Homo sapiens: one gene and its partners. The protein of the gene in region 1 interacts with the protein of each later gene in a pairwise test. Each region holds a gene or a part of one and is shown in the gene's direction. Other genes may lie near its edges.

Region 1 (10,385 bases):
TCACGGCGTTGCAGCGTTTTAAAGGAGGTGATGGGGCTTGCGCTGGCTTGTCTTCCCACCCAAGTGAAGAGTTGATGTTCACTGGTTATGCTTAGACAATGTGCAGTTTGTGTTAATTTAAAATTTTGGGTGGGATAGGGGCATAGGCTTGTGAAGGGCAGTCCGGATCCGGAGGAACTCCTCTTTGTCCCTGGTAGGAGAGACACCCCCAGTCTATCCTCGATGCCGTCAGCCTTGGCCATCTTCACTTGCCGCCCGAACTCGCACCCGTTTCAGGAGCGTCATGTCTACCTGGACGAGCCCATCAAAATCGGCCGCTCAGTGGCCCGCTGTCGACCAGCGCAGAATAATGCCACTTTTGATTGCAAAGTGCTATCAAGGAACCACGCTCTCGTCTGGTTTGATCACAAGACGGGCAAGGTAATGTCACCACATTGTCCAGCGGCATTGTTTAACAAACTTTTTTTCCCCTTTTGCCCTCCCTGAGAGGACTAATGTATGCAGGATCCCAGGGTTTGCATCCAGAGGAGGCTTTGCGCAAAGCCACGAATCAACTGTTTGTGTGCCTGGTTCTAGTGGAAATTTGATTGAGGTGGTTGAATGGAAAACAGAGAAGGTATTGTAATTAAAAGCCTCAGGAGGGCTATGGCATCTTGATAACGTGGTCATTCCCAGTGAAATCCCAAACTAGATAGTGAAACTTGGCGTCTTGCTTTTAGTCTGTTTAGAAAGGTGAATTCACAGTTCAGCGCTTTATTAAGCAAGCAGCAGTTCTCGAAGCAATTCGGGGAATCCGTGGCCATTATTATCCCGGGGCTCAAGTGTCTTAGTGGTGAAATGTAGTTAACACATAGCTTTAGGTGAGTTCAGATCAGGACCTTTCTAGTAAGGATAATTGCTGATATAAACCTAAGATTTTTGAAAGGTTTGATACATACTTGCCCTTGGAGGAGTAATTTGCAATAATCAAAGCTAATTTAATTAAGCATGAACAACTGTAACTTTATATATTTTCAGAGTTTTTTTTACAAGTTGGAGAACATACACATATTGCGTTTGAAAATCACTTTTTGATGTTCCCTGCAGCACTTATTAAGTACTTAATGCATACTTACAGAGGTGCTATTCAAAAGTTAGTGTTAGGAAATAAACTTACTTTCTGAAATTATACCCTATTCTGTCAATTATAGCATTACTTAAATGTGATACGATGAATTCAGTGCTTTTCATTTTAAGCGTAACCAATTTAGTATTTTTATGTTAGTATCGTAAGTTACTATACATGTATGTGCTTTTATTTTAAGAAGTGAAGAAAGAAATTAAGATCCTTTCCATTTTTAAAAACTGTTTATTTATGTTTGTGGAGAGTATACTAAAGAGCTCATCTTTGTGCCTAAACCTCAGGTTTTTAGCTGAGCTACTGAATCAGTTCCAACTTTAAGTTATGTAAGACTAATAGGACTGTCTCAGGTTTCACCTCCTGACTTTTTGCCCCTCTTTCTGAGTTAAATAATTAAATCTTTCTTAAAGGAAGAACTTAAGTCTTCAAGAATATGTTTTGAAATGAAAGAAACCTGAGCCTCAAAAGGAAGAGAAAAAAATGATACTTCGGCAGCTACTGATTTAAGGAATTATTTTGTAAATTATTTTTTAAAGAAAGGAGGAAAAGATTGTCCAAGTGCTGTGTGCTGCATAATATCTATACTTTACGTGTAGGATGAGAACTGAAGAGTATGTTAACTTTTCTGTTTAACACCAGATCCTCATTTACCTGTGGAACAGACCCTTCACTCGCTCCTCGCAAGCTGAAGTTAGGGTGCCTAAAATACTTCATAGATTACTCGTAATCCTTTTTTTTTTTTTTTGAGACAGATTTTTGCTCCTGTCACCCAGGCTGGAGTGCAGTGGCGCTATCTCAGATCACTGCAACCTCTGCCTCCCGGGTTCAAGTGATTCTCCTGCCTCAGCCTCCAAAGTAGCTGGTATTACAGGCACACGCCACCATGCCTGGTTAATTTTGTATTTTTAGTAGAGACAGGGTTTCACCATGTTGGCCAGGCGGTCTTGAACTCCTGACCTCAGTTGATCCACCTGCCTCAACCTCCCAAAGTGCTGGGATTACAGGCGTGAGCCACTGCACCTGGCCCTCATAATTCTTTAAAATGAATATTCATAGAACTCATTTTTCCAGCAGTTGAATTCAAACATCAGTTTACTACTAAGTAGTGCCTTAACTCAACCAGCTTTTACATTTTCACCATTTTATGTTCTTGGGCAACAGGTCTAAACTAATCAGACAACAGGTTGGCTCACAGTACATACTCTGCGAATGCACTTTCTTTGATGAAACACTCGAAGGGGACTCCCATTTTTTGTTTTACTTATTTGAAAAATACTGATTTCATGCCCAGTGCTTTCCATGGCTGTACTAAAACTCTCACAATAGGTTATTTTGAGATAACTAAGAATAGGTCAGTAGTGACTGTTTCATGAATTGAGATGACATGTTAATATTTGTTTTTTTTCTTTGAGATGGAGTCTCGCTCTGTGGCCAGGCTAGAGTGCAGTGGCGCAACCTCAGCTCACTGCAACGTCTGCCTCCTGGGTTCAAGCGATTCTTGTGTCTTAGCCTCCTGAGTAGCTGGGATCACAGGCGCATGCCACCATGCCCAGCTAATTTTTATATTCTTCGTAGATACTGGGTTTCACCATGTTGGCCAGGGTGGTCTTGAACGCCTGACCTCAAGTGATCCACCCTCCTCGGCCTCCCAAAGTGCTGGAATTACAGGCATAAGCCACCACACCCGGCCATGAAATTAGTTCTTCAGAAAAACTTATCTTTGAATGGTAGATATGGCTTATTTCTACCATTTTCACTTTTTTCCTCCTGCTTTATTAGCTAAAATAACACGCAGGCTATGAGACCACTACTTTAGATATAGATGTAATTATTGATTATTATACCACTTAATCTAGTTATAGCGGATGCTCTGTCAGATCTTACCATGTCATTGAATTGTTTTAGGAATTAACTATTTAAAGTTTTGGTTTGGACAGATAGTAGGTTTTAATTGAGCATCTATTATGTGCCAGACACTGTGAGGGATACAGTTCCAAAGAAAACCCACAGTGCGACCAAATAGTTCTCGTATGAAATTTGCAGTGTCTGTAGTCCCACCTACTCGGGATGCTGAGGCACGAGGGTTGCTTGAGCCCAGGAGTTTGAGGTTGCAGTGCTGTGATTATGCCACTGCACTCCAGCCTGGGTATCAAAGCAAGACCCTGTCTCTTAAAAAAAAAAAAAGAATCCCTTCAGAGAAGGAGTTTCGTTCTTGTTGCCCAGGCTGGAGTGCAATGGCGCGATCTTGGCTCACCACATCCTCTCCCTCCTGGGTTCAAGTGATTCTCCTGCCTCAGCTTCCCGAGTAGCTGGGACTACAGGCATGCGCCACCACGCGTGGCTAATTTTGAGTTTTTAGTAGAGACAGGGTTTCTCCATGTTGGTCAGGCTGGTCTTGAACTCCCAACCTCAGGTGATCCACCCACCTCAGCCTCCCAAAGTGCTGGGATTACAGGCATGAGCCACCGCGCCCGGCCAGGTTTTTTTTTTTTTTTAAACATCTGGGGATGATAATGGTACCTATTATTGTTTTGAGAATTGAGGTAATTATATAAATCACTTAGCACCCTGTCCCTGGCTCTTACTAAGCACCCAATACTCAGCAGAGAGGGTGTTTAGTGGGGAAGAGGGAACTATTTAGACAACACTGTGCAATTTGCTATAGTGCTATGGAGTCTTAGGAAGGTGATGAGAAATTATTTTCTTTAATGTGATGGCATATATAGAATAAATTTTGTTTTTGTTTTTGTTTTTTGTTTTTTTGAGACGGAGTCTGGCTCTGTCACCCAGGCTGGAGTGCAGTGGTGCGATCTCAGCTCACTGCAACCTATACCTTCTGGATTCAAGAGATTCTCCTACCTCAGCTTCTCAAGTAGCTGAGATTACAGGCATTCATCACCATGCCTGGCTAATTTTTGTATTTTTAGTGGAGACAGGGTTTCACCATGTTGGCCAGGCTGGTCTCAAACTCCTGACCTCAGGTGATCCACTTGCCTCGGCCTCCCAAAGTGCTAGGATTACAGGCATGAGCCACTGTGCTTGGCCAGAAGAAATTTTTAAAATTGAAACTGATGTAGTTGATAACTTTGTCTAAATTGGCAGTTTACCTGGGCGGTCGACAATTGGGGTAATATGTGCTTTGGGTGACTTTCACTTTGTGGTGACTGTTGCATTCTGCATTGTCCATTATGGGAGGCTCATTAAAAGTTGGAAGAAGGCCGGGCGCGGTGGCTCACGCCTGTAATCCCAGCACTTTGGGAGGCCGAGGCGGGTGGATCATGAGGTCAGGAGATCGAGACCATCCTGGCTAACAAGGTGAAACCCCGTCTCTACTAAAAATACAAAAAATTAGCCGGGCGCGGTGGCGGGCGCCTGTAGTCCCAGCTACTCGGGAGGCTGAGGCAGGAGAATGGCGTGAACCCGGGAAGCGGAGCTTGCAGTGAGCCGAGATTGCGCCACTGCAGTCCGCAGTCCGGCCTGGGCGACAGAGCGAGACTCCGTCTCAAAAAAAAAAAAAAAAAAAAAGTTGGAAGAAATAGGCCAGGCTTGGTGGCTCATGCCTGTAATCCAGCACTTGGGGAGGCTGAGGCAGACGGATCACGAGGTTAGGAGATCGAGATCATCCTGGCTAACACGGTGAAACCCTGTCTCTACGAAAAATACAAAAAATTAGCTGGGCATGGTGGCATGTGCCTGCAATCCCAGCTACTCGGGAAGGCTGAGGCAGGAGAATTGCTTGAACCCGGGAGGCGGAGGTTGCAGTGAGCTGAGATCGCGCCACTGCACTCCAGCCTGGGTGACAATGTGAGACTCTGTCTCAAAAAAAAAAAAAAAGTTGGAAGAAATAATAAACACTTGAAACTTTATGATTATTCAAATGATACATGTTCATTTTAGAATATCTGCAAAATGTAGGCAGGTGGAAATCTAAGTGACACTTTTTAATGCTAAGCTCATGGAATATCTTATTGTATAATACTTAAATCTGCATGTTGAAGGGTGACAGGTTTGGCACAAAGCAGAGTTTCATAATCTTTACCAAATCATCTTCTCAGTAATGTAGCAGTTGGATATTGCCTTGTTGGATGCTGGCCCTGTGTATTATCCTTCATCCTTTTCGGAAGTCAAGCTCTTCAAATTAGATGGCAGATAGTAGAATGGTTTTTTTTTTTTTTTTTTTTTTTGAGCCGGAGTCTTGCCCTGTCTCCCAGGCTGGAGTGCAGTGGCGCAATCTCGGCTCACTGCAACCTCTCCCTCCTGGGTTCAAGTGATTCTTCTGCCTCAGCTTCCCAAGTAGCTGGGATTACAGGCATGAGCCACCATGCCCAGATGCCTGGCTAATTTTTTGTATTTTTAGTAGAGACAGGGTTTCACCATTTGGCCACGCTGGTCATGAACTCCTGACCTCAGGTGATCTGCCTGCCTCGGCCTCCCAAAGTGCTAGGATTACAAGTGTGAGCCACGGTGCCCAGCCTAGAATGGTTATTAATTCCTCTGTTGATTCAAGGCACCACTGAGCAAGCAGATCTACCCATATAGTGGTTACATAGAAAGGATAGTGAGTGAACTCTTGTGATTTGGATGGCCCTATTTGATTTGAGGCTTTGGGGTACCGGTGACATGCTAGTGGTTGACATAGTAGTCTATTTCCAGTTTCACTGAAGTTTACTTACTAGTGGTAGTAGTTGTCTACTTCTAGTCTCACGTTTAATTTAAACTTAGTGCATCTTTTTTTTTTTTTTTGAGATGGAGTCTCGCTCTGTCACTCAGGCTGGAGTGCAATGGTGTGATCTCGGCTCACTGCAACCTCTGCCTCCTGGGTTCAAGCAATTCTCTTGTCTCAGCTTCCTGAGTAGCTGGGATTATAGGCACACACTACCACGCCCAGCTACTGTTTTTTATTTTAGTAGAAACGGGGTTTCACCATGTTGCACAAGCTGGTCTCGAACTCCTGAGCTTAGGCAATCCACCCGCCCCGGCCTCCTAAAGAGTTAGGATTACAGGTGTGAGCCACCGCGCCCGGCCTAGTGCATCTTTTTGAGCACCTGTTCTATCATGATTTGTTTTAGTGAAGGGCATAGTGGTAAAGGGGGAGAAAATGACAAACTGATGAGGATTTGTTATTTCTTCTTTCTAGGAACTTTTACATTGGATAGAGAGGGTGACAGTGCACTTTGAAAATAGTTGAGATAGGTGATATTATGTAAGTTTCAATGGCAAAAGAATAATGACATTTGACTTTAAAATTAGGGGTGGATAGATAAGAAAAGGTGTTTTTTTGGTTATTTTTATTTTTTTTGTGGGGATGAGGATGGAATAAAAAGCAGATAATTTTGAATGAGCTTTGCATTTTCCAAATGCTGAGGAAACTGACTTTGTTGGATTAGAGAGTTCTTTGAAGAGTAGCCAAGGGTGCACATCTATTCTGTGTGATGTTCTTGTTTGTGCCTTGTCTTTGTAATTAATTTTCACACTCTGGAAGACAGGAACGTTTTCCTACTATCTTGTATAAAGTAGTTGTTGAATAAATGAAGCTGACTAGATAGTGTGGTGCCAGGTTGTGAAGTGCCTTGCTTACCAAGCTTAGGATGTGGACCCTTGGGTTATGGAAGGCCTACGAGAGTTCTGAGCAGAGCACTGACATACCAAACCCCTGTTTAAGAAAGAGTGGGCCGGGTGCGGTGGCTCACACCTGTAATCCCAGCACTTTGGGAGGCCGAGATGGGTGGATCACCTGAGGTCAGGAGTTTGAGACCAGCCTGGCCAACATGGTGAAACCCCACCTCTACGAAAAATACAAAAATTAACCAAGTGTGGTGGCATGAACCTGAAATCCCAGCTACTTGTGAGGCTGAGGCAGGATAATCACTTGAACCCAGGAAGCGGAGGTTGCAGTGAGCAGAGATCCCATCTTTGCACTCCAACATGGGCAACAGAGGGAGACTGCATCTCAAAAAAAAAAAGAAAAGAAAAGAAAGAAAGAGTGATACAATAGTGATACAATAGCAGTATGTAGAGTTGCCTGGAGCAAGGAAAAATGGGTAACAGCTTAAATAACACTTTTGTACTAACTATATACTGGGCCCTATTCTAAATGCTTTACTTGTTAACTTATTTAATCTTCAAGTAACTCTTTGAGGTGCTTGTTTTTTCTGCATTGACCTGTGAGGAAATTGAGGCACAGAGAGATCTTGGTCAAGTTCACCTAGCTATTAAATGGTAGAATTGAGATTTAAACTCAAGCTCATAACCACTGTGCTATTCTAAAGGCTTTATAACACTTTAGATATGATGTGATTTTGTGAGGGCATAGACCAGGTTAACAGTAGGAATGAAAATGATTAAATGCCAGAAAATGAAAAAAGATAAGAGTATTAAATTAACTTGCACATTAGGACTTCGGCAAAGCGCAAGGTCCTGTGTGAACTGAAGACTTTAGGGAAAGTTTAATGGATGAAACAGTTTCATGGATGAAATCCAATTTAAACTAGACCTTAGGACTTTTAAAAAGAGGAAGAATGGCCAGGAACAGTGGCAAATGCCTGTAATATCAGCTACTTGGGAGGCTGAGTCTGGAAGATTGCTTGAGGCCAGGAGTTTGAGGCTGTAGTATGCCAAAATTGCACCTGTGAAAATCCACTGCACTGCAGCCTTTGCATCATAGCAATAATTTGTCTCTAAAAAACAAAAAGTTCAAAAACTTGTATTTGCCAGGGGTGCATCAGGTCTGTAGCCCCACCTATTTGGGAGGATGAAACAGGAGGATCACTTAGGCCAGGAGTTCAAGGCTATAGTGCACTATGATTGCTCTAGCCTGGGTGACATAGTGAGACCCATCTTAAAAAAAAATATGGGGTTAAGGGATAGATTGTAGTTAGGGTCAGTCAGGGAAAGGAGTTTTGGGTGGGAGGAAGAAGCAGGGATGATACGGCATGTTCCAAGGACATTGTAAGGAAGACATTGTGAAGAGCCTGCTGAATTTGACAACCAAGATTGTTTCTTCTTTTTTCCTCCACACATCTAAACATGACCACAAAGATCCTAGCCTCAGCTTTTGGGAGAATGGCAGGTCATACATTCTTTTACTTTTTATTTGTTTGTATGTTTGTTTTAACAGATACTTAAGTTTTTTGTTGACAGAAGTATAAAGATCATTAAGGGGTGCTGGTGTTTGTGAGAAAGTCTTTTACTTGACAAGTTGTATTTAAGACACATAATGTGAACATGTATAGGAAGCCAGATTATATCTTTAAAGCACATGTTCATTTCCCTCTATATTATTTTTCATAATAGTGGGAAATTGATAAAATATTTTATCTGTGATTTCAAATTGTTAAAAATATCGACAGTGTATATACTTAAAGCATTTTTTTTCCCACTTAGTTCTTTGACATTACTCCTTAGGTTAAATTCACTCTTTGCCCTTTTAGGCTTCTGTCTGATTTTCTTTCTTTTTTTTTTTTTTTTGAGACGGAGTCTTGCTCTGTTGCCCAGGCTGGAATACAGTGGCGCGATCTCGGCTCATTGTAAGCTCCGCCTCCCGGGTTCACGCCATTCTCCTGTCTCAGCCTCCTGAGTAGCTGGGACTACAGGCGCCTACCACCACACCCGGCTAATTTTTTTTTTTTTTTTTTTTTTTTGTATTTTTAGTAGAGACAGGGTTTCACCGTGTTAGCCAGGATGGTCTCGATTTCCTGACCTCGTGATCCGCCTGCCTCAGCCTCCCAAAGTGCTGGGATTACAGGCGTGAGCCACCACACCCAGTCTACCTGTCTGGTTTTCTTAAGTGATATTTCTGCTAGAGCTTAGTATTTATTCTTTTTGGTAAGTAGGGAAGAGAATGTCATTTAGAGTTTTAAGTGAAAAGATTGTGAAGTTAACTCTTAATATATGTCAGTTACTTCATAGTTACTTGAATCAAGAAAAATGGTGGCATTTATTAGCGGCTGAAACGTTCTAAGTTTACAGTCCAGACTCTTTCCTCTTCTCAGGTACATGCTTCTCTTACTGACACTATATAGGTAGATAAATAGTTACACCTTTGCTTAAAAATCTTTGACGTTGCCTCATTAATTTTTAGCATTAAAATCTATATCTTATTTTCTTTTTTTCTAGCTCTCTCTTTTATTACTGTTTTTTCTTCACCCCAAACTTTGTGTACTAGCTGTATGACAGTGTTCACTGTTTCTAGAACAAGTGCCTTTTTTTGCTGTTTTGTCTTCTAGAATGACCTCTTCTTGTCATCCCTTAAGGCTCAGTTCCAATGTGAAACCTTCCCTGACTCCCTTTAACTGAAGAATTAATTGCTTCTTCCTCTATACTTCCATTTAACTTTGTGTATAATTTCTTTATTTCTTTTTTTTAAATTTATTTTTATTTTTATTTTTGAGACAGGGTCCCTCTCTGTCACCCAGGCTAGAGTGTAGTGGTGTGATCTTGGCTTACTGCAGCCTCCACCTCATGGGTTCAAGCAGTTCTCCTGCCTCAGCCTCTCAAGTAGCTGGGATGACAGGCACCCCCCAGCACACCTGGCTAATTTTTGTATTTTTAGTAGAGATGGGATTTCACCATGTTGCCCAGGCTGATCTCGAACTCCTGGCCTCAAGCAATCCACCTGCCTCAGCCTCCCAAAGTGCTGGGATTACAGGTGTGAGCCACTGCACCCGGCCTGTATATAATTTCATTATGGGACATAAACAACAAAATAACTATGATGCAAATGTACTACTGTCCCATCAGATGTGAACTCTTGAGAGCAAGAGAATAGGCACTACATTCATGTTTGAATGAGGGAAATGTGAACAATGGAGCGGTTTGTATTTCTGCAAACCTGTGCAGTGTTAAAGGGCAGAAAGTCATTCAAGTTAGTTCTCAATTTGAGATCATGGACTCAATTATCAATATGTAGTCTTTGTATAAGTCATTATTTATTGAGAGCTTGCAGTTTGCAAAACATTTTGCTAAGTGTTTTTGGATCGTAGATCCAAATCTTGTGATTGGTGATATGAAATTATATATATGAACTATTACAATTTCACACAAAATAATTTTAAAAGGTTTTAGAATAATCAGAGTGCTTTCTTGTTTCATTTGGTCTATATAACACTCTTAGAAGGTAAGTAAAACAGCTGCAGTCTGGCTCGCTTTTGTCCAAAAAGAGTTTGATGTTTAGAGGTTATTTGTACAAGATCATCTAGTGGTAACTATGGGAGTTTTTTTCCCCCCAAAATGAAAGCCAACTATTAGACATTTATTCTGAACTGTC
Region 2 (10,385 bases), on another chromosome or scaffold:
CTATTGGCCCCCCTGTCTTCTGGCTTGTAGAGTTTCTGCCGAGAGATCAGCTGTCAGTCTGATGGGCTTCCCTTTGTGGGTAACCCGACCTTTCTCTCTGGCTACTGTTAACATTTTTTCCTTCATTTCAACTTTGGTGAATCTGACAATTATGTGTCTTGGAGTTGCTCTTCTTGAGGAGTATCTTTGTGGCGTTCTCTGTATTTCCTGAATTTCAATGGTAGCCTGCCTTGGTAGGTTGAGGAAGTTCTCCTGGATGATATCCTGCGGAGTGTTTTCCAACTTGGTTTCATTCTCCCCATCACTTTCAGGTACACCAATCAGACATAGATTTGGTCTTTTCACCTAGTCCCATATTTCTTGGAGGCTTTGTTCATTTCTTTTTATTCTTTTTTCTCTAAACTTCTCTTCTCACTTCATTTCATTCATTTGATCTTCCATCACTGATACCCTTTCTTCCAGTTGATTGAATCGGCTACTGAGGCTTGTGCATTTGTCACGTAGTTCTCGTGCCTTGGTTTTCAGCTCCATCAGGTCCTTTAAGGACTTCTCTGCATTGGTTATTCTAGTTAGCCATTTGTCTAATTTTTTTTTCAAGGTTTTTAACTTCTTTGCCTGGGTTCGTACTTCTCCTTTAGCTCGGAGTAGTTCGATCATCAGAAGCCTTCTTCTCTCAGCTTGTCAAAGTCACTCTCTGTCTAGCTTTGTTCCATTGCTGGTGAGGAGCTGTGTTCCTTTGGAGGAGGAGAGGCACTCTTATTTTTAGAGTTTCCAGTTTTTCTGCTCTGTTTTTTCTGCATCTTTGTGGTTTTATCTACCTTTGGTCTTTGATGATGGTGATGTACAGATGGGGTTTTGGTGTGGATGTCCTTTCTGTTTGTTAGTTTTCCTTCTGTCAGGACCCTCAGCTGCAGGTCTGTTGGAGTTTGCTGGAGGTCCACTCCAGACTCTGTTTGCCTGGGTATGAGCAATGGAGGCTGCAGAACAGTGGATATTGGTGAACAGCAAATGTTGCTGCCTGATCGTTCCTCTGGAAGTTTTGTCTCAGAGGAGTACCGGGCTGTGTGAGGTGTCAGTCTGCCCCTACTTGGGGCTGCCTCCCAGTTAGGCTACTTGGGGGTCAGTGACCCACTTGAGGAGGCAGTCTGTCTGTTCTCAGATCTCCAGCTGTGTGCTGGGAGAACCACTACTCTCTTCAAAGATGTCAGACAGGGACATTTAAGTCTGCAGACGTTTCTGCTGCCTTGTTTGGCTATGCCCTGCCCCCAGAGGTGGAGTCTACAGAGGTAGGCCAGCCTCCTTGAGCTGTGGTGGGCTGCACCCAGTTTGAGCTTCCTGGCTGCTTTGTTTACCTACTCAAGCCTGGGCAATGGCAGGCGCCCCTCCCCCAGCCTCGCTGCCGCATTGCAGTTTGATCTCACACTGTTGTGCTAGCAGTGAGCGAGGCTCCATGGGTGTAGGACCCTCCAAGCCAGGCGCGGGATATAATCTCCTGGTGTGCCGTTTGCTAAGACCATTGGAAAAGCACAGTATTAGGGTGGGAGTGACCTGATTTTCCAGGTGCCATCTGTCACCCCTTTCTTTGACTAGGAAAGGGAATTCCCTGACCCCTTGCACTTCCCAGGTGAGGTGATGCCCCGCCCTGCTTCAGCTCATGCTCAGTGCACTGTACCCACTGTCTTGCACCCACTTTCCGATACTCCCCAGTGAGATGAATCTGGTACCTCAGTTGGAAATGCAGAAATCATGTGTCTTCTGCAATGCTCACGCTGGGAGCTTTAGACTGGAGCTGTTCCTATTCAGCCGTCTTGTCTCCATCCCTATTTATTAGTTCTAATAGGTTTTTTTTGTGGAATCTTTAGAATTTTCTACATATATGATCATATCATCTGTGAACAGAGATAATTTTACTTCTTTTTTTCCAGTTTGGATGCCTTTATTTGTTTTTCTTCCCTAATTGCTCTGTCTAGAACCTCCAGTACTATATGTAACAGAAGTATTAGGCTGGTGCAAAAGTAATTTCGGTTTTTGCCATTACTTTAAAAAAAAAATGGCAAAAACTGCGATTACTTTTGCACCAACCTAATAGCATCCTTTCATTGTTCCTGATCTTTGTGGAAAAGCTTTCAGTCTTACTGCTTTGAGTATGACATTTACTTTGGGTTTTTTGTATATGGCTTTTACTATGGTGAGATAGTTTCCTTCTATTCATATTAGTTGTGTGTTTTATGAAAAGAAGTTAAATTTAATCAAATGCTTTTTCTGTTTTCATTTGAAATGATCATGTGGTTTCTTCTCCATTCTGTTAAGGTGGTGTATTGCATTGTTCGATTTTGTATGTTGAATCAACCTTGCATTCCAGGAATACATTCCAGTTGGTCATAGTGTATAACCTGTTACAATCCTGTTGAAGTGAGTGTGCTATATTTTGTTGAGGATTTTTGTATCAATGTTCATAAGGGATATTGGTCTTAGTTGTTTTGTGGTAACTTTGTCTGGCTTTGATATCAGAATAATGCCTCTTAAAATGAGTGTGGAAGTGTTCTCTTTTCTTCAGTGTTTTAGAAAATTTGAGAAGTTGAATCAAGATATTTTAATCTTTTTTTTTCCTTTTTGTGGAGTGTATGTTCCCAGATAGCCATTCACATGGTTGGCCCCATTATATCATTTAGACTTCAGTAAAATGTCTTTTGGGCCTTCTTGAATGTCAATCTAAAGTAGCTTCTCAGTCGTTCTCTATCAGTAGCTCTCTATTGTTGTCCTCATAGCAATTTTCACAGACATTTTCCTGTGTTATCCTATTTTCTATCAAATTATCCCGTTGCTTATAGATAGAATATAAGCTTGAGAGCAGTCCCTAATCATTTAGAATTTTTATGGTTGATTCTGTTACATAGGCATGATTGATTAAGTCTTTGGACATTTGTGCTTAACTAAATCTCTACCCCCTCTCTCCTTGCAGCCCTCCCGTAAGTCAGGGGTCAGGCAGAAATTTCCAAACATCTAATCACTTGGTTGGTTTTTTCGGCAACCAGCTCCCATCCTGAAGCTATCTAGGCTCCCACCAAGAGTCACCTGATCAGTATAAATTCTGGTATGGTTGAAAGGAGCTTATTATGAATGACAAAAGACAGCCCCTCTCACTCTTGTGAGAGGGTGAGAAAACAAAGATAAAATATCTTGATTCAACTTCTCACTCACTCAGTCAATTCACAGGGTCTTAGGAGATTTTGTGCCAAGAACCTACAAAGACCAAATATTTCCTGTGATTTCATAATATCACACTACCTTACAAGGTTGTTTTAAGAATAAATGAGAGAATGCATGCATAACTCTTAGCACATTGCCTGGTACAGATAGCAGTGGCTCTACTGCTACAACTGTTAAGAAGATTTTCTTTCTTTCCCATCCGTCTCTTCCTCGGCCTTCTCTACTCTCCCCTTTTTCCCTCCTCTGATAGTCTTTGCTTGTGTTTCCATTTTCCTAATCTTTCTCTGACGTTTTTTCTTCTGAGTTCTCAATATTAGGTCAGAAGTCCAGAACTTGGAAGGGTTAGGAGTGGCATTGGTGTAGGAGCTTCTCGCAGAAGATTCATTGCAAGCCTCCCTCCCTCATTTACTTTCCTTTATGTAAAGCTGTTGGTTTCATTTTCATCAAGAATCTGAAATATCTCAGGGGAAGTATCTGAATTTACTTTTTCAGAACAGATATTAGCTGTGATAGTGCCCTCCCAGTATTAGAAGATGTGGGAAATCACTATTATGATTCCTTATATCAGGCTGATTCTTGAGATATGTTGTTTGCTTTAGGAATGATACTGATAATTTTTTTTTTTTTTTGAGATGGAGTCTCGCTGTGTCGCCCAGGCTGGCATGCAGTGATGTGATCTCAGCTCACTGCAACCTCTGCCTCCCAGGTTCAAGTGACTCTCCTGCCTCAGCCTCCTGAGTAGCTGGGATTACAAGTGCACGCCATCACGCCTGGCTAATTTTTGTATTTTTAGTAGAGACGAGGTTTCACCATGTGGGCCAGGCTGGTTTTGAACTCCTGACCTCAAGTGATCTGCTCGCCTCAGCCTCCCAAAGTGCTGGGATTACAGGTGTGAGCCACCACGCCCTGCTGATACTGATAATCTTAAAGAGAGAAATTTGATCATCCTTTCATTAGTAAAATGTGTAATAAGAAAGCTTATTGTGGGAAGAAGAGGTTCTCGATTATTTACCCCTTTAGCATTTTCCTGGAGGTTTAGCGGTCATTAGAAAGAAGTACTTGTGGCTAGGCATGGTGGCTCACACCTATAATCCCAACACTTTGGGAAGCTGAGGAAGGAGAATTGTTTGAAGCAAAGAGTTCAAGACCAGCCCGGGCAACATAGCGAGATCCCCATCTCTACAAAAATAAAAATAAGTTAGCCTATTGGGTTGGCATGTGCCTGTAGTTCTAGCTACTCGGGAAGCTGAGGTGGGAGCATGCCTTGAGCCCAGGAATTTTAGGCTGCAGTGAGCTATCATCACACCACTGCACTGTAGCCTGGGCAACAGAGTGGGGTCTCTTAAAAAAAAACACACACACACACACGGAAAGACATACTTGTTACTAGTGCTCTTTCGTAAGATTTTATCTAACGTGGCATTTTAATTATGGTTTTAAAAATATTTCTTTCCAGTTAATAGAAGATGAAATTGCAACCATTCTTAAATCTACATTGAAAGGACTAGAATATTTGCACTTTATGAGAAAAATACACAGAGATATAAAAGCTGGAAATATTCTCCTCAATACAGAAGGACATGCAAAATTGGCAGATTTTGGAGTGGCTGGTCAGTTAACAGTAAGTTAACTTTAATGGTTTTCTAAACACTTGGCTAATTTGTTCAGATTTGATTATAACTAAACTTCAATTACTTTTTGAGGGGGAATGGAAAGAAATGTGTAGTTTTTTAATTTTTGTGGAGAAGGAACCATAATTGAGCCAAATTTGAGTATTATTTAATTTATAATTTAGGGTGATTGAATGTGAAAATATATCTTATAATCAAAATGCTTAAATGTTCTAAAAGGGAAGCTACGTAGCTCATTTCTGTAGCTTTTATCATTGTAGCACTATCTTTAATGACTGTGTTTAATGATGGTAGTGTGGATAAGTTACCTGTGGACTCTTGGTTATTTTCAGAATTCGGAATTCCTAAGTATGTCATAACTAGTTGAAATTTTAGCAAAATAGTCAATTTCTGATATAATCTGTGGCATTGGAGGTTTTAACATTTTTTAAAAGTATGTTTGGCATACAGATTTCCTTTGTGCTTTTGTAGTAGCATTTATGGCTATGTAACATTATTGCAGGATACAATGGCAAAACGCAATACTGTAATAGGAACTCCATTTTGGATGGCTCCTGAGGTGATTCAAGAAATAGGCTATAACTGTGTGGCCGACATCTGGTCCCTTGGCATTACTTCTATAGAAATGGCTGAAGGAAAACCTCCTTATGCTGATATACATCCAATGAGGGTAAGAAAATTATGGTTTGCTGAAAATGTTAGCCTTATATAAGTGTTGCCGTTTTGTAATGTCAATGTAAGTAAATATAAACTAAATAAGTTCATTTAAATGTATTCTTTTTAAAAATGGTAAAATTACCTCTTAAAGATTAGTAACTGTTAACTTCTCTTCCTTCTGCATTCTTAATTGTGAGAAAAGAACTGAAGGCTTTGTATATCTCTACCATCACTGTTCTCCTCCCCCAAAAATATACTTGTAAAATTTTTGCTTGCTTTTCAATAGAAGAAAGGGTTGGTAAATCCTCTTTGCTCTTCAGTTTATTGTTTTCTTGATTGTGGTAGTGAAAGAGTTGGAAGTAATCATTTCTCACTTTTTTACCCACTCTGTGATTTATACCTTACTGTGTGTTTTTTTTTTTCTGCCTTTTCTCTTCTTTGGTCTGAGGATGGTATTAAGCAATCCTAATTTCTAATATTACTATGCACATATAAAGGAATTCGGCTAATTTTTTTTAATGAATGCATGCTGAGAAAATGGAATTCCTTTTTTGAACATCATTATATGCTTCTGTGAACTCTGCAGGATAATTTTTGAGTTTGAAATATATATTTTGCATATTCAAGTCTAATTGCCTGTGTTTCAGGGTTTGTGATGATATACTTTTTAGGTTTATTACTATGTGAATCATATAGATAAGTTCATCATCATAAATAGGTACACTGATCTTTGTATACTTATTGCCCTCTAGTGGCTGTAGTTATCTCAATAAGGATGTAGGAATGAGGGGAGGAGTGTATGTATGTGTGTATTTGTAGAAAAGAGAAGATAATATCATGGTGGCTGGAGGAATGTGAAGTAAATAGATAGAAAGAGGAAGAATGCATAAAAATTCAGATATTTTAGAATATCTGAAGAAGAATAAATTGGAATTACATCTGATATTATAATGCCATTGTGGGTTAAATTTCGATAATATAGGTAACAGTGTATTATACAGAAAATATTTAAAAATCTGTCTGCTGTATTGAAACATTTTAAAGAGAGTTTTTTTTTTTTTTCTTTTGAGATAAGGTCTCACTCTGTCACCCAGCCTGGATTGTAGTAGTGCGATCATGGCTCACTCGAGCCTCGACCTCCTGGGCTCAGGTGATCCTCCCACCTCAGCCTGCAGAGTAGCTGGGACTATAGGTATGCACCACCATGCCCAACTAATTTTTTGTAGAGACAAGGTGTCGCCATGTTGCCCAGGCTGGTCTCCAACTTCTGGGCTCAAGCGATCCGCCCACCTCAGCTTCCCAAAGTGCTGGGATTACAGCAGTGTGCCCAGCCTAGAGTTCTTTGAGTAATGTAATTGTATACAATATGTATCATCTTCCTGGTGTATATAAATTCCTTTTGGTAAATGAAAGATAAAAATGCATCAATTGTTTGAAAATAACTTGAAAAACAACAAGGTCAGCATAAAAACAGGAACACAAAGTCTTATTTCATCTCTGATCATTAGTTATCTGTGGTTCTTTTAGTTAGGATGTTTGTAGGGTGATCCTCAAAGTAGGTGTATTTGAGTTTGAATCAGTGAGGTTTACTAAATTACCCAAGGCAACCTAGGTAAGTACAAGAGCTGGGATTTAACTTAGGACTTCCATTATTACTATTCTGCTTCTTCCCTGTGTAAATCTTATTTTTCCAACCAAATAGTTCAACATGTTAAATTTGATCCTGTGCTCAGATAGCAGAGAATTGTAATATGTGGCCTCTTCCTTTAAGGATCTTCTAATATTACCTGAGAGTTTGAATGAATACATTATACATTATTAAAAATATACCTGAAAATAATATTTCTTTTAGAAAAAAATATACCTGTATTGCAAACTTCCTAGGATGCCTTGCTCACTGTTTTTTTTTTTTTAAATCTAAATCCTACCAGTTTTTCAAGTCCCAACTTGGATTTTATGCCTGTGTAGAGCCATTCTTGACAGCTATCGCCCAAGTAAATTTCTCTTTTTCCTCATATTTTGTATATAGGCAATTTCTTCACAGTCCAGTTCTTTGGACAGTTAATCAAGTGTTGCCTCGTGCATTTCCAAACATAATATAGTTTATTTCCTATTTAAATAATATCATTATTTAACTTTTCTTGTGTTTGTGAGCTGTCTTACAAAGTAGAGTATTGAACTGCAAGTATTGGAAGCTGTTGAGATCATGTAACAGATAGTTTTATCACTGGTAACAAGTACTGCCTTTTGTTTTCCTTGAAATGACAGGTTCACTTGGTTCCTTTTTGAGAAAATGTCTGTCAAATACCCAAGTCTGTGTAACCTTAGTTTTCTGTTAGTTATTCTTCAAGTAAAAATGATGTTCTTTGAAAAGAGCCTTGTAGTTTATTTAGCTTGCAGCTCAGTCACACAACTGCTTTTTTTCAGATTATTGTTGTTCTTTGATATGTGGGGAAGTGCTTTATGCATATTTTCCATTTTGTCAATGTAGAATATTAAAAATACATATTCAAGTGTAGAAATTTAATAGAATTAATAAACTTTACTGTTTCATCAAGGTTTACAGTAGTTTTGTGGGGGGTATAGTGAGGGCAATGAAAGAAAGAGCTGTCCAAGAGAGAAAAATTGTTGAGGGCCCAGCTAAAATTGGTAATTGGGAAAGTATAGTGTAATTAATCCTGGTTTGTGGGCCTTCCTATGGTAGTGTGCTCTGCTGTGCAGTAGAATGCATTATGGCCTTGATATGGAGGGTTTGGGTTTTAATGAATGAGTGTCTTAGAAGGATGGGGCTATAGGGAATTTAAGGATGCTGCTGAGAGACAGTTCAAGGGGTTACTAACAGGGCACAGTCTGGAAAGAAAAGAGAGAGTGTAAGGAAATGGGGTGATCAAAGAATAGGTAGTGTTCTCCATGCTTGCTGCATAGCCGTCATGTGGGGAGCCCTACCCTAAACAGATTAAATCAGAATCTCAGGAGGTTAGAGAGGAGATAAAGTGGTAGTTAAGATATGAGAAAGCTGGTAGGATATGACACTATGGTAAGTGAGTGAAATATTGAAGTTTTTTACCAACATTTTTTTTTGTACTGTAGTAATTTTGTGAAATAAATATTTTATCCTCCATTGGGTGGATTGGATGAAATGGATAAGATTATGTTATTTAAGATGACATAACTTGTCAGTGGCAGAACTGAGATATGAACTCAGTTTGTTCTGTGTTTTTGCCTAGACACCAAAGAAATATCCTCTGTGTTAATATCCCAACTCAGTGCAAGTGGAGGAGCGGCTAACAAAAATAAGACATTTTAAAACCATGTAATCACAATATTATAATTACTGATTTAAAATCTGAACCCTCTAAGTTTTCCAGAGTAGCAGGAAATATGGTAACCTAGGTAAGATTTCAATTTTTAAAGTTTTGTTTTCCAGCCATGTTTTGGTAGACATATAGGCTAATGAGGTAATCAATAATCTACAAAGTTGCCACAATGAGACAAAGATGTGATTGACATGAAGACCCCACAGCTGATAACAGGCAAAAAACCTGATAGTTATTTTAATATAAGTAAATGATACAATTTACTACATATACATGGCTATCTAGAACAAAGTTAGAGACAAAGTTAGGATGTGGTGGGTGAGTTTCCCCAGCCTCCATCTATAGTGGGGTGCCCAGCCACTGGTGGTATTGCCTAATTGGAGTGAGGATTCTAGCCAGTCTTTCTGAAATGCCTTGCATTCATCCTCACAGAGTTCTAGCCCTTTCCACTATGCCTGCCCACTAGCTGTATATAATTAGGAACACTCCAGAACAGTGGTGCTGCCTTGTAGACTGAGTGAACTGGGATTTGGTTTCCCAGTCATTTTCTCAGCCTTTTACCGTGTTTAGGTACCAGGCCTGTTTGTAAAGTAGTATTGCTTAGGCCAGCAAAAATTAGGGGCAAAAAGAGATGCCTTGAGCTTGGATAATTTAGAATGGAGTTGCTTCTCCTTAAGTGGCCACAAATTAATACTGTTTTTCACTGATTAAGGTTTTTGTAGGACATATATTTAGGGTGTCATAGTCTGAGGGATACGAAGAACTTAAAGATGGCACTAAATTAGAAAATGAAAGTGGTTAAATTGGAAATTTGCAGTTATTTGAGAATGGGTCTTTCAAAGGTGTTAAGTCTGAGGTCATTTGTTTTATATGCTTTAGTTTATCAGTTTGTCAGAGATTGATTATTTCTTTTATCATTCCTGGGCAGAATAAGGAATATTTGGAATATAGATGTTCAAGGAGAAATTTTCTAATAAGAAGAACTATTAAAAACACTGGATTTGTTTGATGGCAAGGAGTTAACCAAATTTGTTAGTTTCCATACAACTTTTTCTTCCCCCCAAAGAAACTTGTAGTATATGTAAACCGAATCTTCACTGTGGTAGACAGTAATGATTATCTGTTTAGTAAAGGGAAATGATGATGTACACATTGAAACATATAAAGCTTTTAAACAGGAGAGGGATAAAAGTGCTTATAAATTTATATTCAGCTATGAGATTAAAATTAGTGAGTAGTGGCAAATGGGAGTAAGTCTAATCAGAATGTTAAGTGAAACAAATTTTTTTAAATTAAAACTCAGTTTATTTTATAAAGTTAAATATGAAACCACCAAATTAATTTTGATCAGTTAGATAAATAGAATAGTTAAAAAAATTTAGTTTTGAATTCAGTTAACCACATACTTTTGAGGAGATCAGTCTTCTCTTTTTCTCAGGCCTTTAGGAAGTGAGTGTGAGAGAGAGAGAGTGTGTGTGTGTGAGTGTGTGTGTGTATATATATGTGTGTGTATAGATATATATATATATATATTTTTTTTTGAGACAAAGTCTCGCTCTGTTGTCTGGGC
Region 3 (10,385 bases), on another chromosome or scaffold:
ATTACAGGCGTGAGCCACCGGGCCCGGCCATGCTCTTAACTGCCTCACTCTGATGCCTCTCTAAAAGTACCCCTGTTTCACAGGTCTCTGTGTATGTTAGCAGATATTTACTATAGTACCATAGTGATCCAATTATGAATGCACACTAGTTATGTTTCTTTCTGAACTATGTTCGTTCGTTCTTCTTGGTTTCTTTCTCCGAGGCCTTGGTTTAATTGAAAAGAGGATTAGGAATCTGAGTTTTGTTTCCCCCTTTGCCTTGTCTTACATAATCTTGAGCAAAGGACTAAAGTTTCTTGGCATGCTCATTCCTGTACCTTTTGGATTTTAAAAAATGTATTAAAAGCACAAGAGAAGAGCATTGCAGGACTGGGTTCTGAAGTGGCTGGTGATTCCCAGCTCATTGTAACTAGTAGATTGCCTAATTTGAAGCAGATCAATTTTATTATCACGTGTATCAGTTTATCAGGACAAGACAAAGTGTCATGGAGTGGGTGGTTTAAGCAACGTAAATTTATTCTCTCACTGTTCTGAAGGCTAGAGATCTGAAATCAAGGCATTGTCAGAGTTGTTTCTTTTGACGCCTTTGCTTGACTCGTAGATGGCCATCTCCCTGTGTCTCCATGTTCTTCCTTCTGTACCTGTCAGTGTCCTAATCTCCTCTTATAAGGACACCAGTCATACTGGATTAGGGCATGCCCATATGACCTCATTTTATCTTAATTACCTCTTTAAAGGCCTTGTCTCCAAATACAGTCACATTCTTAGGTGGTGGGTATTAGGACTTCAGCATATGAATTGGGGTAAGCTGGGGACACAGTTTTATTATGTAAGATTTTGTCCATTTATCATGTATAGTTGTTGTAATCCATATCAAATTCTGTGTGGAAAAAGAAATAGTTACACATAAAATGAACTTTATGGGAGTTCTGAAATGGGAGAAAGCTTTGAGAATTAGCCAGACCTGTAAGTGACTACTTCATAGACACCATTACTTGTGTTTGGAAAGATACAGGTGTCTTTTCAGAAATTCAGATGGCATGTGTTTCCAATAACCCCAGTGCAGGAAATGCCCTTTGTGTTCGTGAGTTTGACATTTGTGTGTGTGTGTGATTAAGTGATGACAGATTGGTGTCTCATATAGGAGTTAATAATTTTAAAAAATGAGTTGCCATTAGATTAATGTTATAGTGGAAGGCGTAGAGTGCATTCCTGGGATGCTGGCCATCCACATGGCCATCTGACTTAGGAGAGGAGCATCCACCAGTATTTGGTCCATGGATGCTCTGTTGATCAGGCTTGTTCATTTATGAGCAAGTGCTGAAACCGTCTGGAACCTGGGGAAGTCCCAGATAAGAGAACTGTATTATCAGAGTCAGGCTGTTTTGGTAATAGTGTTTTTTCTGTGAAGAGTCATGGTATAAAATATTATTATGAATCACTTATCAAAATATTTTTATAGAAATGTTGATAATTCAGTAATACTTCTTAGGTGAAATTCTGTTTTATTGTGATAATTCAAAGATTGCTGATGAAATTCGTGATTCCCATCATTACATTTGTGAATCCATTTCACAAATATATTTTGACCACCTCTTGGTTATCAGGCACCAGAGATGTAATAGCGCCTTAAGTTCAAGTTGTTTTTAATAGCCCCGGATCAAAAACAAACAAAAAAGCACTTAGATTGTTTCAAAGATGTATTCGAGCCGTCATATGCTAAATGACGAGTTAATGGGTGCAGCACACCAGCATGGCACATGTATACATATGTAACTAACCTGCACATTGTGCACATGTACCCTAAAACTTAAAGTATAATAATAATTAAAAAAAAAGAAAAAAAAAGTTTGTCAAAGTATTATCAGAGGTTTGCAGCTGTCTATCTCAAGGCAGTGGCAATTTCCTTTGTTATGCTGTGGTCCCTGAAGTAGTTGAAATAGTGACTTTTGCATTTTGTAAACCACAGAGAGTCAACACTTCAAAGAAACATACTTGATCTTCCTTTGTATAAGCTGTTTATACAACTTTGATTATACTTGAGAAGTGAGGTATTGTCCAATGTTTATACAATTACAATTCAGGACTTTACCAAAAAAACCCTGGCATATGAGATGTTCGTTCTGACTTCTGAGTTTATAGAAGTTTCAGTTCTGAAGTTTAAGAGGAGTTTCACTTCATCCCTTTTCATTTTGAAGGTAGGAGTTTTTATGATGTCATTGGTATTTAATTTTTAGGACCTTTTGATTTTCAAAGGTCACTGTGATCATTTTGTTCTGTTGATATCAAGTTAAGGCAGTTTTGACTTGGAGCAGTTCTCCATTTCTCTAGTTTATAGTCCTTGATATTCATAAACTATAAGATTGTCCTTCTGAGATCAGTGTTTATTGGTAGATACACTTGATGTGGTCAGGGTTTTTGTTGGTTTGTTTTATTTTTTGTCTTCTAATTTTAATCTGTTTTATTTAGGAAGGTACACATTTGTGTGTGTGTGTGTGTGTGTGTATGTGTGTGTATTTAAGTCTTTTGTTGTAATAATTGATATTATCCAGCTAGTCTAAACCTTTTTTTTTCTACAAAGAGGTCTCCAGTGTGACTACTTCCATATTTCACCGTTTCCTCAGCTCTCTATTCTTTGTTGTTCTTTGTAGTTTCAGGAAGCCATTGTGTAGACTACACACACACACACACACACACACACACACACACACACACACATATTCCTTGGCAAGTTCCTTCTTTAAGCTCATTAGTAATTTTCAGAGATCTCAGAGTTTTAAAAAAATGTTAATTTATAACCTCCCATGTTTGTTATGATTGTCTAGCATAGTCAGAAATCTGAATTATCTGGAAATTGTGAGCAGCCAAGTACCTTTGATTTTTGGGACTAGTCAAAGGTATGTATCTACTCATAGGAAGGTCTTTGTGAGAATATCTGAAACTCACAGCTGCCTAGTGATTTTTCACTTTTGATCATATCTAAATGTACACTTTCCACTTTCTGTTTCTGTGATACCTACAGAATTTATGTGTTTTGACAAACTTACAAAAAACTTGCTAATGGAAGAGCAAAGGTTTCCCGTGTCTTCCTTAGTCTGCAGTCCAATTCATAGTTATGTTTCAATTCATAGTTACCTTACATTAAACACCTTTTCTGAAGAGATAATTACATCATTTTAATTCATGAAATCTCAAGATTTAAATAGATTTTGAAGGATACATCGAATGCTTGAATCTACAGCATTTCAGCCACATGACTTTTTTTTTTTTTTTTTTTTTTTTTGAGACAGTCTCTCTCTGTCACCCAAGCTTGAGCGTAGTGGCGCAATTTCGGTTCACTGCAAACTCTGCCTCCTGGGTTCACGCCATTCTTATGCTTCAGCGTCCTGAGTAGCTGGGATTACAGGCATGCGTTACCACGCCCAGCTAATTTTTTTGTATTTTTAGTGGAGACGGGGTTTCACCATGTTAGCCAGGATGGTCTCGATCTCCTGATCTCGTGATCTGCCTGTATCGGCCTCCCAAGAAACCTTGTTTCTTAAAACAGTCTTAACTAGTGAAGTCTGTATAGAGAAGTTCCTGAGATGCTAATTATAAAAAAAAGATATATTTTATGTTCTAGTTCCTAGCAAATAAAATGTATTTTGTGTTTATATTTCTTTATTCACAGGCAGCTGAAAAAGTTGGATGAAGATAGTTTAACCAAACAACCAGAAGAAGTATTTGATGTCTTAGAGAAACTTGGAGAAGGGTGAGTGTAAAGAAACTATAGGTAGGTCATTGGGTCCCAGTCTTTTTCCTGCCCCAGAAGAAGCAGAAGGATATGAACCTTTCAGCATTGTTCTAGGTGGGGTGGAAGGTAAATTTACAGCTTGTGATGTCCTTCTTCGCTTTACTCCAATCCCTATTATAGACAGATTTAGTGATTCCTGGTCTTTTTAACACGAAGAATATCTATTGTTTTCTCTTTTGTAGGATCTGTATGATTTTATCTACTTAACAGATAGCACTAATTAGATTAAAATTCTATAAGAAACTTTTTAATTTGCTGTTCATAATTTCTGATTGGTATGCAATAACTGTTTCAATGAAAATCAATGTAATTTAGTATTTTAATATTTGCACCTTTGTGAAATATAGTAAATAAATTAAGCACTATCACCACCTTCACAGCTACTTAGGAGATCCACAATCCTGGGTTGGGAGCCAGTGGATTTCCTGAAACACAGATTTGTTAATGCGTTTATAAAATACTGATGAAATGATATTAGTAATGTGCAGTGACCATCATTGACTTTCATGATACAATTAAGTTTACATAATTTTTATACTTTTATATATCATTTTAATTCAATCCTGTGTATTTATTCCTTCTTCTGTAATGACCAGGAAATTAAAATGTTAATGACACCATTTCTTAAGTTTTTCTTGTTAATTTTTGAATAGGCGATACAATCATATGATTCAAAATTTAAAAAAATATTAAGACGCATACAATAAAAAAAAAAAAAAACTGCCTCCTACCTCTCTCTGTCTCTTAGCCACCCAGAATCACCAAGGGTAGCGGCTTCTTGTGTGTCTTTCAGAGACAGGCTATGTGTGTGCGAGCGCACACTCGTGTTTGTGTGTGTGTGTGTCTGTATTTTTAATCCCTTGGGAGTATTTCTGGATCAAGGGAAGACCTGACATACTAACTTGTAAAAACAACTACTGACTGATGACTATATGCTCTTTAAAATAATTTCCTTTATGTCATTAGATTATTTTTTGGGTTTAGTATTTTTTATGTTAGGAGACAGATTTACAACGTTAAACCCAATCCTGGATTACATGAAATGGTTTTTTTATGATTTACCTCCTTGTAAAAAACATGAGTCATCGTCTTTTTGTAAGTTGGAAAAATACTCTTTGGAATCCAGCAAGAAATCAAGCAGAGAAGGGAAGTAAAAATGACACACCAGCTGTGCTGTGAAAAGACAAGTCCAAGATGAATCTGAAGACTGCCAGTTGACTGGCATCATTAAAGGTATGGGGAAATGACAGTCCCTCTACATCTGTTGCCTGCCATTTTCAGCTTTAGCTTGCCATCCTTGCTATTTTCCCTAAGGCAGCAAGGCTGTGACCTTTAATCTAACAATGCTCATAAGTTATACTTAGAATAAGTTCAAGACTGATAGGCATAATTGACTATGTAACTTATTTCTCTCATTTCTAATACAGTTTGCTCTTACTACTACAATGTGAGGCTGACCTGGGTTAAAATCCTTGCTCTACTGTTTACTGGTCATAATAGACAAGTGGGCTTAAGCAAATTGCTTACTATTTTGGAGGCTCACAATCCTCATCTGTAAAGTTGGGATAATAATATATCAATTCATAGAGTTGTGTTATTACCTGAGGTAATTGGGGTAAAGTATAGTGCTTATCACAATAATAAATGTTCAGTAAGTGGCAACTATTGCTATTCTATTTTAAATGTATCAACTGAAGCATTTTCAAGACCTCATCATGTCAAGTCTTAAAGTATTTTTAGGTGTTGTTATAGGTAGCTCTGAGCTGATTGGGTTTGTGGAATGTCAAAGGAAGACTATAGACAGAGAATATATCAGAAATATAATGTAAACAAAAAATAAGCTAATTATGATTTTTTAAATTGTATTTTATTTATTTGTTTGTTTATTTATTTTTGTAGAGACGAGGTCTCACTGTGTTGCCCAGGCTGGTCTTGAACTCTTGGCCTTAAGTGATCCTCCTGCCTCAGCCTCCCAAAGTGCTAGGATTAGAGACGTGAACCACTGCACCTGGACAAATTGCGTTTTAGATCTATGGATGTCTTCTGCAAGGAATGTGGAAATTTCCCTATGAAGATATCACCAGGGAGAAAACAAAGCTTCAGATCTTTCTTCCCATACTATCACCTTATTGTTCTTCTAAATAATACCAGATTTCTGGTATTTCTTGGATTTCTGTTATTCTGACTGAATGAACCTAAGCAAGCCTCATTTAACTAGGAATATTTTGAAGGAAGACCTTCACTGCACTTCTTTTCCAAACATGTGACACAATGCTATTCTTTTTTTTTGAGATTAAGTCTTGCTCTGTCACCAGGCTGGAGTGCAATGTCACAATCTCGGCTCACTGCAACCTCCGCCTCCCAGGTTCAAGCGATTCCCCTGCCTCAGCCTCCTGAGTAGCTGGGACTATAGGCACACACCACCACGCCCGACTTATTTTTTGTATTTTAGTAGAGATGGGGTTTCACCATATTGGCCAGGATGGTCTTGATCTCGTGATCTTGTGATCTGCCTGCCTCAGCCTCCCAAATTGCTGGAATTACAGATGTGAGCCACCACGCCTGGCCAATGCTATTCTTAAATTGTTCGGGAGGATGAATGGTTTGTGAACTCTCACTGACTTGTATCTTGTGAAATGAGCTATGGCTAAAAAAACTGTTGGATTCTGGAGGCTGCAATCATTCTGTGTTATGAGGATCATATGGATCTGTGGCAGAGTAGAGCCAAAGCTCCAGACCAGGATGAGTGGAGAGCACTTGGGAAGTGTTTTCAAGTGGAGCCTAGCACCTTTTTTCTTCTACTTAAAGTTGTACACATTGACTCATTTGAATTTTTATCATAGAATGATAACAAAAGCATCTTGCCCATGGTTTCATAAAAAATGAGTGCTATTGTTAAGACTTGTATCTGATTAATTTGGCCTCAGATACTGTGGTATTTCCATTTTTCTACATAGATCCTTGCCTTGCATGGCTTATGTAAAACACCTACTTCTCCATTCTCTGCTGTCAGTTGTAATTCATTGAATCATCTCATTTTGTTGTAGGGAATCAAGTTTTAAGGGACTTGCTTGTGAGTATGATTGCTGAAATCTTCTAACCACCCCCTATCCCTGCCTTCAGATTACTGTAGATGCAGTATATGGAATCAGGAATCTTAACTTCATGTGAGCTATTGGAGTTTTCCTTGCTATCAGGATGCATAGGGAGGTATGAAGAGTGTTCTGGTCAAGATTGCTGAGTGAGTGTATGAAGAGAACTTTCTAATATATAAGAATAATGAGTGAAAATTATTTTAAATATAAGGATATATAGACAGCTATGGACAAGGGATAGGAAAGAAATCTAAATAATCAGCGGAGACTAAAGCATGCCTTATCCTTGTCAGGAGATTGCATTTGAGCTTCCTGCATGAAGTTGGGGGCTGGAACTCGGCTCTCCATCTGTGAACTAAAGCTGAAATAAATTTGCCTGACCACAACCAGAAAGTGTCATTTGCCTGTGGCCTAGGGAAAAAATGGATATACTGGTTCGATAATAGGAACTGAGCTTGGATTGTATTTAAGTATGGTATCTTGAAGGGCAAAAACCCCAAACTCTGAATATAAGACCTGGTTTAAGTTGTATATCCCAGACTACTGTACTGAGAAAACCATGAAATCATCGACAGTGAGTGTGGTATAGAGGAAAATCATTCAAGAGAAAATGAAATCCATGCAAGGAAATCTACTGCCATGAGATAATCAGCAGAATGGGAGAATTCACACTGAAGGAAAAAGAAATAATGAAGCAATCTCAAAAACAATTTAATATAATTACAATTTTCAAAAAGATCAAGGAGGAGATAACATTTTTAAAAGGACATCAGATTATTGACATGATTATTAACATATTTGCCCAAAGGCAGATAAAAAGTTGGGAATCTTGACAATGAAAACTACAACAATTGAAGTTTTAAAAGCCCAATAAATTGGATAAACAGTAAACTAGACAAACTGAAAGGAGAATTTGTGAATTGAAAGATAGAAATGAGACTGATCACAACATGCAGAAATACAGTGTTGGAAACCAGGAAGACAACATAGATTGAGGAGGTCTAATACAGTTTTGGTAGGAATTCTAAAAGAAGATCCTAGAAGTGGTAGAGGAAATAATCACATAATAATCCTGAGAGTTTTTCATTCTTGAGGAAAGACACGAGCCCTCAGATTGAAGAAGTTTATGAAGTGCCAGATCAACTCCTAGTTACATTACAGTAGAATAGTAGACTGTTAAGGACAAAGGAAACCTTAAAAACTATGGGGAGATTACCCATGGAAAATGATAATCTGATAAAAGCTGACTTCTCAGCCACAGTCGATGTTGGAACACTGCAACAACAGTGCTGAGGGAAAGCTGTTGTCAATCCGGTATCCAACCAAACTATCATTCTAGAGTGGAGGTGAAATAAAGACAGTTTCAGACATACAGGAGCTAATTTATCAAGAATGCCTTTGGATGGAAGTAACAATACCCAACAAACAGTGGCTAACCAATAAAGACATTAAGAACTAAATAATACATCTGGGGGTGTGAGATTCGAGAAGCCGTTAATTGGCTTGACAATGGTTTGACATCTGGGTAATTCTCGTAGTCTCAAATGGCTGCATTAGTTTCAAGCATCATCCCTCACATGGCAGTAACCAAAGAAAGAAGGGAAGTGGCAGGTGGAAATGGGCCTTCTTGTGTGCTTGTCTCCTACCAGGGAAGAAAGTCTTTCCCAGAAACCTTTCAGCAGAATTATCTTCAAATTTCAGTGGCCAGAACTGGGCGACATGTTTGCCACTAGTTCAGTCACTGGCAGAAGGGAATAGGAATTCTGTGAGTGGCTTGGACTACCATGGTATATCTCCTGGGACGAAGCACATCACCACTGTAACAAATTAGGAAGTTATTTTAGCAAGGAAGAAGGGACACATGCTCAACAGTTGCCTCTCTCTGGCAAAAAGTATTTGGTGTAATATTTAAGGATGATTATGCTAGTTTTGCAAGTATGACAGCTTCTAATGGAATGGAAATATTTTTATGTGCTCTGCATAGACTTAAAAAGTTTTATGTTACTTTCACATTGAAACAGTTCATGAGCATCTATTTGGCAGTTAGAGTATTGTACTTTGACATAGTAGGTGGCACTGCTATTTTGATTTTTTTTTTCACCAAGACAGTGTGAAGATACAGATGTGTTGGGAAATATGAAAGACAGTTTACTCAGTATTATTTCACTGACAGCTGCCCAGGATTCCAATGAAAATGTTATCTGTATAAAGTGATGATGGTATCTCATTTGACCATCACAAATGAGATACCATCACATCTTGTAAGGTAGTTTGTATTATTGTCATTTTACAGATGAGAAAATTCAGGTACAACAAGGTTAATAAGGTGTAAATGATAGCTAAATGTAGTGTTGGTAGGACTCAAATCCAGCTTCTTTACTTTCAAAATCTAGTGGATCTGTAGCCTCCAAATTGACTAGATACACAAACTTTATTTTGATATTAAGCTGTTAAGGGAAGATGGAGTAGGAAGCAAAGAGTGTGTGTGCTGTGTTTACCTGATACTAATATTAAACAGGCTTAGATTTTAATTAGTTTCCATAATATTTTAAGTATTATTGTAAGTAAGAGGAGCAAGGACAGAAAGATCTTGTGGTACTAGAGTGAATACAATAAAACAAAGACTGCCACTTCCATATTGTACCCCAGTATAGATGGGGAGACAACGTAAGCTTTGTTTTCAGACACACCCGGGTTCAAATCCTGGACTGATAACACAACTGGTTTCAAATCCTGGACTGATAACTTATGTGACCTTGGGCAAATCATAAACCCCTTTGAACCTTTTTACATTTACCTGTAAAATAGGGATAGTCATCTCATCTTCATTTTTTGTAGGAATGAATTGAGATGGTGTACAGTCTCTAGCAGATAGCAGGCATGCAGTGCATGGCAGCTACTATATTACCATCTCATAAGAATACATTCATTACAGTTTTGAATGTGAAGCTTTCAAGATGCCATTTTGTTGTAGTTCTCTTGACAGTTTTTTCCCCAAAAGTATTTTAGCTATCTTAGTTTTGCAAGTGTATATGTATTAGGCACTTAGGGATATATGTTAGAACTATCAGTTGCTTGTGTTTTACCACTTCTTATATCTTGGCTTGCTTTGACTTTATAAATGTTCTTCTTCTCCCAAATGTATAGGTCCTATGGCAGCGTATACAAAGCTATTCATAAAGAGACCGGCCAGATTGTTGCTATTAAGCAAGTTCCTGTGGAATCAGACCTCCAGGAGATAATCAAAGAAATCTCTATAATGCAGCAATGTGACAGGTAAAGGCATGTGGGCTTCCTTTGGGGAGAATGTGGTTTTGAATTAGCTATGATTGTGTAGAGTTTGATACCTAGAGACACATTTACTTAGATATTTTGCAGAAGGGAGAATTCGATGGAATCACTGTGCATTTTCTTTTCAGAAAAAAATATGATGATAATGGTTGTTTTTGTAGCTAAACCTCCGTAATTTTTATGCATGGTGTTTTGTTTTTTTTTTT

Evidence for each region.
Region 2: the proteins of SLMAP (region 1) and STK3 interact in binary tests that used the Homo sapiens proteins (3 or more experiments, as listed by UniProt).
Region 3: the proteins of SLMAP (region 1) and STK4 interact in binary tests that used the Homo sapiens proteins (3 or more experiments, as listed by UniProt).

The regions. Positions count from the first base shown.
Region 1 is NC_000003.12:57,757,430-57,767,814, forward strand, and holds part of SLMAP (sarcolemmal membrane-associated protein), read left to right. Parts: 5' UTR 1-222; coding exon 223-420; intron 421-10,385. UniProt on the Homo sapiens protein: Associates with the striatin-interacting phosphatase and kinase (STRIPAK) core complex, forming the extended (SIKE1:SLMAP)STRIPAK complex.
Region 2 is NC_000008.11:98,701,593-98,711,977, reverse strand, and holds part of STK3 (serine/threonine-protein kinase 3), read left to right. Parts: intron 1-4,666; coding exon 4,667-4,831; intron 4,832-5,343; coding exon 5,344-5,511; intron 5,512-10,385. UniProt on the Homo sapiens protein: Stress-activated, pro-apoptotic kinase which, following caspase-cleavage, enters the nucleus and induces chromatin condensation followed by internucleosomal DNA fragmentation.
Region 3 is NC_000020.11:44,968,408-44,978,792, forward strand, and holds part of STK4 (serine/threonine-protein kinase 4), read left to right. Parts: exon of another isoform or gene 1-2,198; intron 2,199-3,670; coding exon 3,671-3,751; exon of another isoform or gene 3,752-4,513; intron 4,514-4,875; exon of another isoform or gene 4,876-5,026; intron 5,027-5,692; exon of another isoform or gene 5,693-6,926; coding exon of another isoform or gene 6,927-7,003; exon of another isoform or gene 7,004-7,005; coding exon of another isoform or gene 7,006-7,034; exon of another isoform or gene 7,035-7,277; intron 7,278-10,035; coding exon 10,036-10,164; intron 10,165-10,385. UniProt on the Homo sapiens protein: Stress-activated, pro-apoptotic kinase which, following caspase-cleavage, enters the nucleus and induces chromatin condensation followed by internucleosomal DNA fragmentation.